2 separate regions of the Homo sapiens genome follow, and region 2 is linked to region 1. The links come from fine-mapping of genetic effects on gene expression. A gene starts in region 1. The other region holds a variant in brackets. All regions are shown on one strand. Distances are from middle to middle.

Region 1 (4,382 bases):
GTTTAACCACAATCAGAGCCTTAAGCTAAAGTGCCAGGTGGTAGAATTTCAGGCCAAGAAGACAAGAGTTTTGGCAAGGAAGGGAATATTGCTCTCATGGTGGCGCCCTTGAAATCTTCCCATGTGTACGGTTCCCTAGTACAGTGACACAGAAGTGACAGAAGTGACAGAACTGACAGCCCAGAGACATGTTTGAGTCTGGCAAGGGATCGATCCTAGCCATGCCATGCCATGCCTCAGCTGCCACCACCAATCAGGGATGTCAGATCTCAACCACAAAGGACACTGACATGCTTGTCGCTCCCCTTGCACGGCCTCTGTCTGCTCACCTCTGCCCACACCTCCAGGTCCTAGAGGTTCCTTGCCCTCTGGGGAGCCCCAAACCTCCTACTACCCCTGCCTCCCAGTAATGAGCTCTAGATCTGTGCTGCCCAGTATAGGAGCCGCCAGTCATACACGACTATTGGGTACCAGAAACATCTCTCACCCAAACGGAGTTTGCTATCAGTGTAAAATTTCATGCCACACTGCACATTGAAGACAACAGGGAAAAAGAATGTAAAAAATCTCGTAAACACTTGTATCTTGATTACATGTTGAAATAATAACATTTGGGGTATGTTTAGTCAAAGAAAATATACTATTAAAATTAACGTCACCTGTTTCTATTTGTTTTAATGTGGTTACTAGAAAATTTTAAATTGTACTTGTGGCTCCCATTTTATTTCTTTGGACAGTGTGACCCTGGATGAAGGGCCCAGGCTCTCCCTCAACTGCAAAGGGGCAGAATAAGCAGTCTGCCATTAGCATCTCCAACCTCCTTTTTCTAAATGTATTTCTCTTTCCAACTCCCTACTCCCCTCAAGCTTCCACCCTCCCCAGTCAAGACCTTTTCTTAGCCAAGGACCTAGAGCTCATTCACATGAAGGAATAAGGGTCTGGTAATAGCTGAAAATGTTCTCATTCCCACTCTCTCCAATAGGAAGACATCCTCATGGGCTGGGGACACCAGAGACTCTCTCCAAAGGGAAGGTGTCCTGCTGGGTTGGGGGTTGGGGGTCGGGGGGTGGGGGAGTTGAGGCAGGTTGTACCTCTAATCAAGGGGCCTAAAATGGGGGAGGGATCCCAGAATACCTCCAGAGCCAGGGGCCAAAACTAGGTAAGTCCCTGGGCTCCAAATAGCAAGGGGCAGACTCAAGGAGCTTCCGAATTCTGTCTCATCACCCCGTCTAACCCAGCCACCCTACAGAGGTAGGAGGGACAAACTCCACTTTCCCCCGCCACAATCTCCTCCCTTGCCTCCCCCTCCCCACCTCCCACCTACCCACCCCCGCCAGCCCCACTGCACTGCTGAAGCCTTCCTCCAGCCACTGCTCCCTCCTCACACAGGACAGCTACACCCTGGTGCCCACAAATGAAGTCCAGACAGCTTAGTCCCATAGACAGAGCCCTCTGCACCCTGACCGCAACCAACCGTCCTCCCATCCCTGGAACCCACAGCTCTGCCAGTCTGCTGGCCAAACAGCCCCATTCTGCCCTCATCTCCAGGCCTCGTTCCAGCATCCCCCAGGCTGGAATGTCCTCATCCCAACAGAAGTCTACTCTCCTTCAGGGCCCAGCTGAAATCCCTCTCCCACAGGCACCTGCCTTGATGCCTCAGGCTCTAGGCGCAGGGACTGCGGCCAGGCTGGGGCACCTGCCCTTCTTCCCCCTGCCCTGGCTTCCCCTCCTGGGTGGGGAGCTCTGTGTAGTGGTCCCCTCCACCCCTCCATTCTGCCCTGCGGCAGGTGTGTGTGCACTCATTAACACCCTGCCCCACACTGGACTGCGGGCTCCTTGAGGGCAGACACATTGTCTCAGAGACCTCTGCCCACCCACCCACTCAGGGTCTCACCCCTTCCACAAACAGCCCTTAAACTAATGTTTGACAAACACAGAGATCCCCAAAGAGCCCCAGAGAGGATGGCAGTGGTCAGTCCTGCAGGACACAGCAGCATCTAGAAGGGTCTGAGCACCTTCCCAGGCTGGGGGCCTTCTCCTTCCCGGGTCCTCACAGCTCAGCCAGACCCCCTGGCACGGACCTGCACACACATGCACACTCCCGCACTCATACCCGCTCACATCTGAGATACCGATGGCTCTCCCTCTCCCAGGCTAGGAAACTCTGTCGCAGGAGTCCTCCCCACCCACCAGCAGAACCCCCGGACCCCCTGCCCTTCCGGTGAGCCGCCCCTCCTTTGCCGTCGGGTTTCCCTCCCTCCCTTTTGCCCAGCCAAAACCCGAACCCAGGCGCCAGGGGAGAGGACCGCCGTTCTAGCTTGCCCCACTGCTGGGGGCACGGAGTTCTTGCTCCTCCAAGGCTACGGCCCCCGTCTCCGCGGACCCCGCCCGGACTCCCCCTGGCCACCGGGACGCCCCGCCCCCTCCCCTCCGCAGCAATCTCTTACACTCGGGCTGTGAAGTTCGGGGTATTTTTAGGCCGGCGATAAATAATTCATAGGGAACGTGGCATCAGGCTCCCCCCGCGGGAGGAGGGGGCGCGAGCAGCGAGAGCCACCGTCACCCGCGGCTCAAGGACACTCGCGATGCGGCGGCGGCGGCGGCGGCGGCGGCTCCGGGCGGGGACCCGCGCCACGCCTCCTGGCGGCCAAGCTGAGCACCACGCACCCGGCGCCCCCCGCCCCACGCTGCCCCCCGCCGGCGTCCGCGGCTCCGGGGCCCCCACCCCCACTCCCCCAAGCTGGGTCGTGACCCCGAGTCCCGCAGTGGGGGGACCAAGCCAGCCTGGCAGGCGGCCCCAGTACCATCCCAGGCCCGCCCGGGGGCCCTGGGCGAACCCAGGTGTCCCGGACCTGCCTACCTGCCCCTGGCACGCTCTTATTCTTCGGGAGTTTAGAAACAGGCTCAAAGTCACTAGCACCGCCAAGACCTGGACGGGCTCTGAAATACAGCCAGCGGAATGGTACCCTCCCCAAATAAGTGTCTTTCCTCGATTTTCCTGTGGCCCGGGGTCAGGGACTGAACTAAGATAACGCCACCATCCGAGGGCTGGGGGACCGAGCCAGAAGTCCCCTTGGACGACCAGGGCTGGGAAACCGAGTGGACGAATGGGGTGGGCATCAGGGCCTGGCGGGAATTCCCGTCTTGCTCACCCAGCAGCTCCTTGCAGGGTCGCGGGACGCACCTGGGGGTTCAGGTTGCCGGGTGCCTTTGCTCCGCGTGTCCCCGCCCTGCCCGCGTAGGCAGGAAACAGGAGACTCGGGGCTTCCCCTCCCCGCCGTCGGGGATCCTGGGCGAAGCCCCCAGAGACCGGCGCAGGCGGCTGGTGCGCAGCCAGGGCCCAGCGCCAGGTCTTGCTCGCCCAGTGCCCTCTCTGCCTACCCTTCCCTTTGCGCTCTGGAAGCCCGGGAGCCGGGCACGGGCCAGCATCTGCAAGATGCCACTACTCTGGAAGCCCACTCCGATTCTCCCAGGTCGCAGGAAGGAGAGAGCTAGGCTGGGGCAAAGGAGATGGGGCAGAGCTGGAAGGGGAAGAAGCGGGACTCGCGGCGGGGGAAGGGGTCTGGGCGCCGAGGCGAGTGCGCAGCAGGTGCCCAGCAGACCTAGGGAAACTGGGGCACTGGGCTGGGGAGCCGCACAGCCCCCTTTCACCTTCTCGACTCCTTTCCAACCCCTCGCTCTGGTGGATCCCAGCCCCGGCCCCCACTCCCGGCCCTGTTCCCCGCTCTCCGCCCCGGCGGCTTCCAGCAGCAACAGTTTGGGTCCGCGGCAGCCCAGACTCCCCTGGTCCCGCGGTGCTGCCGCGCCAAGCGAAGGAGGAGGAGGGCTCGGCGACCCTGGGGACGAACGTCTTGGACGCTTCGCCCGCGTCCTTCTCTCGCGTCCGCCGCGCGCCTGTCTGCTCGGCCTCTTCTTCGCCTTCTCTCCGGCCGCCCGGGTCAAAACCCAAGGCCAGGTTCTTGAGGGTCCGGGTCCTCCAGCCGCCCCCTCCTTGAGCCCCGAGAGTCCTGCGTGGGTCCAACCCCCCGGGTGTCCCGCCTCTGTCTCCGCCGTCCTTGCTCGCGCGCCGCGGGAACCCAGCCCCAAGTTGGCGGCGAAGTTGGTGCCCCTCGCCCGCCGCTCGCCACTTACCGAGGGGAAGGGGCGCTGCGCCCGCGACGAGAGCCCGCGCCGGCCGCCTCCCTCGCGGTGTCTGTCCCAGAGCCTCGGCCCCGGAGGGCTGGCGCGCTCAGTCTCAGCTCCGCGGGCGCCGGAGCCCGGGCGCGGCGGGGCGGGGGCGGGGGCGGGTGGCGCGGCCTGGTCCGCTGGCCCCGACCCGCCCCTGCGCCCCGCGACCCTCCCGAAGCTCGCACGGCGCCCGGCTCCGTCCCGGGCTGGGCTGC
Region 2 (4,382 bases), 55 kb before region 1:
CTGAGTCACCCTGTGACTGCCTCCTCCACCCTCATCCCCAGTGCCCATGCTTTCTCCTCCTGCTCAGGGAGAGGGTTGCTGTTTTTGTTTTTAATGTCACTCTCAGGGACGTGGGTTCGGTTGACTGGCATTATGCCCACCATCCATCATGCCCCACGACCTATGACCTGTCCCCACCTTGGCCAATACCTATGCGCCAGTTGAGAGGATGATGCCTAGTCCCCCGTGCCACCGCCTCTATGGTCTCAGTACAGGTGCCAGACTGGGGGACTCAGTGTCACAAAGCAGCAGGCAGTGGCTTCTTCTCCCTACCACTCCCTTACCCAGCTCGGAAGCTGCTCATGGGCCTCTGTCAAGGTCCTGAGGGGTGACAGGGTCTTATGTTCTTGCTTCTAAGCTGGTGACCGACATAGCCCCCTTCACAGCATGACAGTTGGGTGTCTCTGGCCCTGGTAGAATGTGCAGGTTGGGTATCCCTTCCCCAAAATATTTGGGACCAGAAGCGTTTCTGATTTCAGATTTTCTTCAGATTTTTAGAATATCTGCATTATACTCACAGTAGAGCATCTTAAATTCAAAAATCCAAAATATTCCAGTGAGCATTTCCTTTGAGGATCGTGTCAGTGCTCAAAAAGTTTCAGATTTTGGAGCATTTCAGGTGTTGGAATTTTGGATTTGGGGTGCTTAGCCTAAACCATATTTCTTTACCCCATCTCCATTGTCTGTAAAATAATGAGTATAGCCTTGCAAAGACTTCCTACCCGCAGCAAGCCAGGTTTACTCCCGGGCACGTGGGGAAAACGGCAGTGTAACTTACCTGGTTGCTCATCCCTCACCCCACCCCCATTCACCAATTCCCCCAGGAAGTGAATGGAGATGGGAAATGATCTGTTGCCATGACCTTGACCCACACACACCCAGCATTCTTAACTCCTAGGAACCCCATTATATGAAAATCCAAAGGTATGAAATAAATTGGGAGGGTAGTTACTTGTTACAAAGTGATTCCTTACTTTACAGAAGGATTTGCTTCAGATTTCTCTTAAGTACTCAGTTTCCCTAGTGTATTTAAATGTTGTTCTGTGAAAATTAAGCATTTGTAAAAGAACTTCAGGAGCCCTTCTCTTGTGTAAAGGGAGATATCCGTGTATTCATAGGCAAAGGTGCAGAACCCCAAAGCCCGGTTGATGTTGCTGGAGAAACAGGCAGGCAGGGCTTGGGGTGGACATCATAGGCAGCCCACCTGAAAGCAGTAACCAGCGATTCCCCTTCCCCTCTCCCCATCCACATCCCTGAGCTGGGAGAGCTCCGCGGAGCTTGATAAGTATATACCCGAGCCCCACACCTGTGCACAGGCCAATTTGGTTGGGAAGCTTCCAGGCAGGGCTCAGTGGGGGAGTATCCATCCCTGCTGGGGACCTTCTGCGCTGAGCTTTTTCAGGACCGTTTCTTTGCAGGTCTCATCCTGATCCCAGTCAGACCCCGAGCCCGAGGCCTAAGCCCTCCTTGTTTGTGAGTGGTGCAGTCAGGGATAAAAACCCGGTGTGCCTCACTTCCCAAGCCACCTGGGCTGATCCTGGCCACTGACCTGTGCGTGCACATGCATTTCCAGTCATTCCCCTCGAGAAGCTGAGCCCCGGGCAGACTCCCAAAGCTCAACAGCCCAGTCCATCCCACACTGTGCACCCCGCTGCTTCCAGAACTCCCATTTCTGGGCAAAGAACTAAAAATAGTTTTTATTATATCTGTTAAGAGTACATCCCAGTTGTTGATTTCAGATCTCTCCCTGCCACCTTTTTTATTTTTTATTTTTTTCTTCATTTCACAAAATAAAAGTGTCAAAAAACTCCATAGTCTGTGGAATCTAGCAACCTCCCAGTAGTTTGAGAGTAACATGGAATGT[T/C]CTTCAATATTTTGTGCTAACTAAAATGAAAACTGTATATGCCAAACTGTTTGTCTTCTGCTCCGTGTCTGGCTGCTCCTTTTATCCTGTAGATCAGTCTGTGGCATTTGTGGTGGCCCTGCCAAGTTTTGTGAGGCTGTGCTATTCCCTGAATGATGCTTGCTCTGTTACAGGGTGTGTATCATAAGCAGAGCCTGATGTCTTTCTATATAGCGCCCCAGGGCCCTAGCAGTAATTGTTTAATTAAATAAAGCACTCACTCAAAAGTAATAGCCGTGATCCTTCGTGTGGCCAGTGTCCCAGCCAGCGGTGCTGGCCCTGCACACTGGCTCAAAAGCAGCACCTGTGTGCAGAGAAGAAATAGCTGAGTGTGCGCTGTGCAGTGCACCCTGGCCCTGAGGAGAGGAGCCACAGAACCCCAGAGGGTTTACAGCCAGCAGAGAGGTGCGAGGGACTCGGCTATGATGGCCCTTACACAGAGCTGAACGATTAGGGTGCACATTAATGATGATATCGGATGAATTAGCATAAGCCCGGATGTCTTGTGGATTCGCTGACAGTGGACCAAGGAACATTTTCATAAGCCTCAGGCACAAAAGGAGGCACTGGGGGTGTGGCAGCAGATACCCCATGTGAGTGTGACTCTAGAAGGGTCTTGAGCCACCGCAGGGCATGTGTAGTTTGGCAATGGCAAGAACTTCCTTCAACCATGGATTGAGACATTTTCTGAACACCTTGATGGGAAGAGAATGCAGGGACTGGTATTGGGTGTTGGGCACTGGCTGAGGCCGGGAGGCCCCTGCGGTCTGTAATGTCCAGTTCTGGCGCCTTCTCCCACACTACTGCAGGGAGGCTGTGCTTCACCTGAGAGGCAGGTGAACAGTCTCTGGGAACACTTCCCAGCTGGTCCCTTTCCCCTGGATCAGGAAAGTGTTTCTCAAGATCTGGTTGCCTGACCACTGGCACAAGAGTGCCTTCGGGCTCTTAATAAAAATGTAGATGCTTGGGTCCTGCGCCAGGCCTGATGCAGTATATTCGAAGGCCACAGGGCCCAGGAATCCGCATTTTCAACCAGTTCTGAGGAGAATTCTGTGTGCTTTTCCCTTTGAGAAATCCTGCTGGCGCAGATCTGTCGAGGTAGTAAAAGGTCTCCCGGGGAGAGGCCTACTCTGGTCTTCCTTCAGGAACTGCTTCCCACAGCACCATGGTGGAGGCAGCTGTCAAGGGCTTCCCGTGCCTGCCTTTTGCAGGGAAAGGAGAGGGGCTGGGCAACCTACAGGTGCTGCCACATCCTGGAGTCCACACCTAAGGCACTGCCAGAGAGAAGAGGGGCTGTGCGTGCCCACTGGCTGGAGGCTGCTTTGTCACTTGCGGCTGACGGGTACCTCCCATGTCCCTAGCGGGTGGTGCTCTAGGCTTCCCCTGTAGCTTCCTCTGAAGCTGCTGGTTGGGGGCTCTAGACCCCGCAGCGTGCCAGCTCCCCGGAGAGGGCATCTCACTCTGACCCCCGACTAGGGAGGAAGCTGGGGGCTTGCTGATGTCACTTCTCAAACCCGCTTCAAGAGAGCTCATTAATCAGCCAGCTTGATATGCCATCTCCCCTCCGTCCCGCCTCCAAGGTTACTCAGTTCCCGGTCTATTTCAAGGCCAGACGTCAGCAGAAAAGGGGTGGAGCCAGCTGGGCCTGTGCAGCCCTCTCTGCAGGGCACCCGTGTTCTGGGCACCTGACTTCCCTCCCTTGCTTCCTCCAGCTCCTGCTGGAGCGTTCCCACTGCCATTGCTCTTCCTGCGCCGAGAGCATGGACCGAGGAAGGGAAGATGCCGAGAGCATCTCAAGTGATCGCCTGGCACCTCTCCTTGAGTGACGCACAAGCTCCGGGCAACAGAGGGCGATGGCACTGCCTCCTCCTGTTCCCAGGGCAGGGCGGGGGATTGACAGCTAGACTCTGGGCACCAAAAGCCATCAGATGCCAGCTGGTTACTGGAGACGCAAGCGGCCTCATGGGTTCCGAGGCCCATGGGCACACACATCACCACCAATGAATGTTCTGAGCAGTTCAATTCCTGGCAGAATCAGGTGGTTGGAGGTGTGGGTGTTTTTTCCCAAGGGAGCTGAGGGGCTAGATTGATGGCTCAGAGGGTCCCCCATCCTCTGTCACTTGCGACACAGCCCACCTGTTCCTCTCACGCTCTCTTGTTCTTAGGACCTGTGAGGATCAAGTTGACCCCTAGCCTGGCCCCAACAGTGGTAGCCCAGCCCCCAGCAGTTATGTGGCCAAGCAAGACATGCCCCGGCCTTCTCACTGGTATAAGATAGTGGTATACTGTGACCCCGGCTAACCCAGACCCAGCCTCTCCAGGCACAGCCGTCGGGGAGAATAATGCCGTGCACCCATCCCCTCCCTCCTCCTTGACATCCAGCATAAATACTAAAAGAGCTGTTTTTGTAGAGAGATCTCAAAAACTAAAACATGAGAGC

Which allele goes with the higher level. Positions count from the first base shown, and alleles are read on the strand shown. Sizes are in standard deviations (SD) of each study's normalised expression.
For the expression in cerebellar hemisphere of the gene that starts at base 2,589 in region 1, allele C in region 2 goes with a higher level than allele T (small effect, 0.33 SD a copy in GTEx).

What was found. PIP is the estimated chance that this variant, and not a neighbour inherited with it, causes the effect. A credible set is the group of variants that fine-mapping cannot tell apart.
Region 2: its variant is the best candidate, but not a certain one, in a credible set for the expression of GRIN2C in cerebellar hemisphere (GTEx, PIP 0.50).

Annotation. Positions count from the first base shown.
Region 1 is chr17:74,857,297-74,861,678 of GRCh38, forward strand. GRIN2C (glutamate ionotropic receptor NMDA type subunit 2C) reads right to left here and starts at 2,589. Exons shown (of 13, transcript NM_000835.6): 1 at 2,448-2,589. RefSeq lists an enhancer at 3,416-4,114.
Region 2 is chr17:74,802,102-74,806,483 of GRCh38, forward strand. All of the region lies in intron 8 of SLC38A12 (solute carrier family 38 member 12), which reads left to right. Among named protein-coding and RNA genes, the nearest start is that of SLC38A12, 28 kb to the left of the region's middle. The variant T/C (reference allele first, on the strand shown) is at 1,904.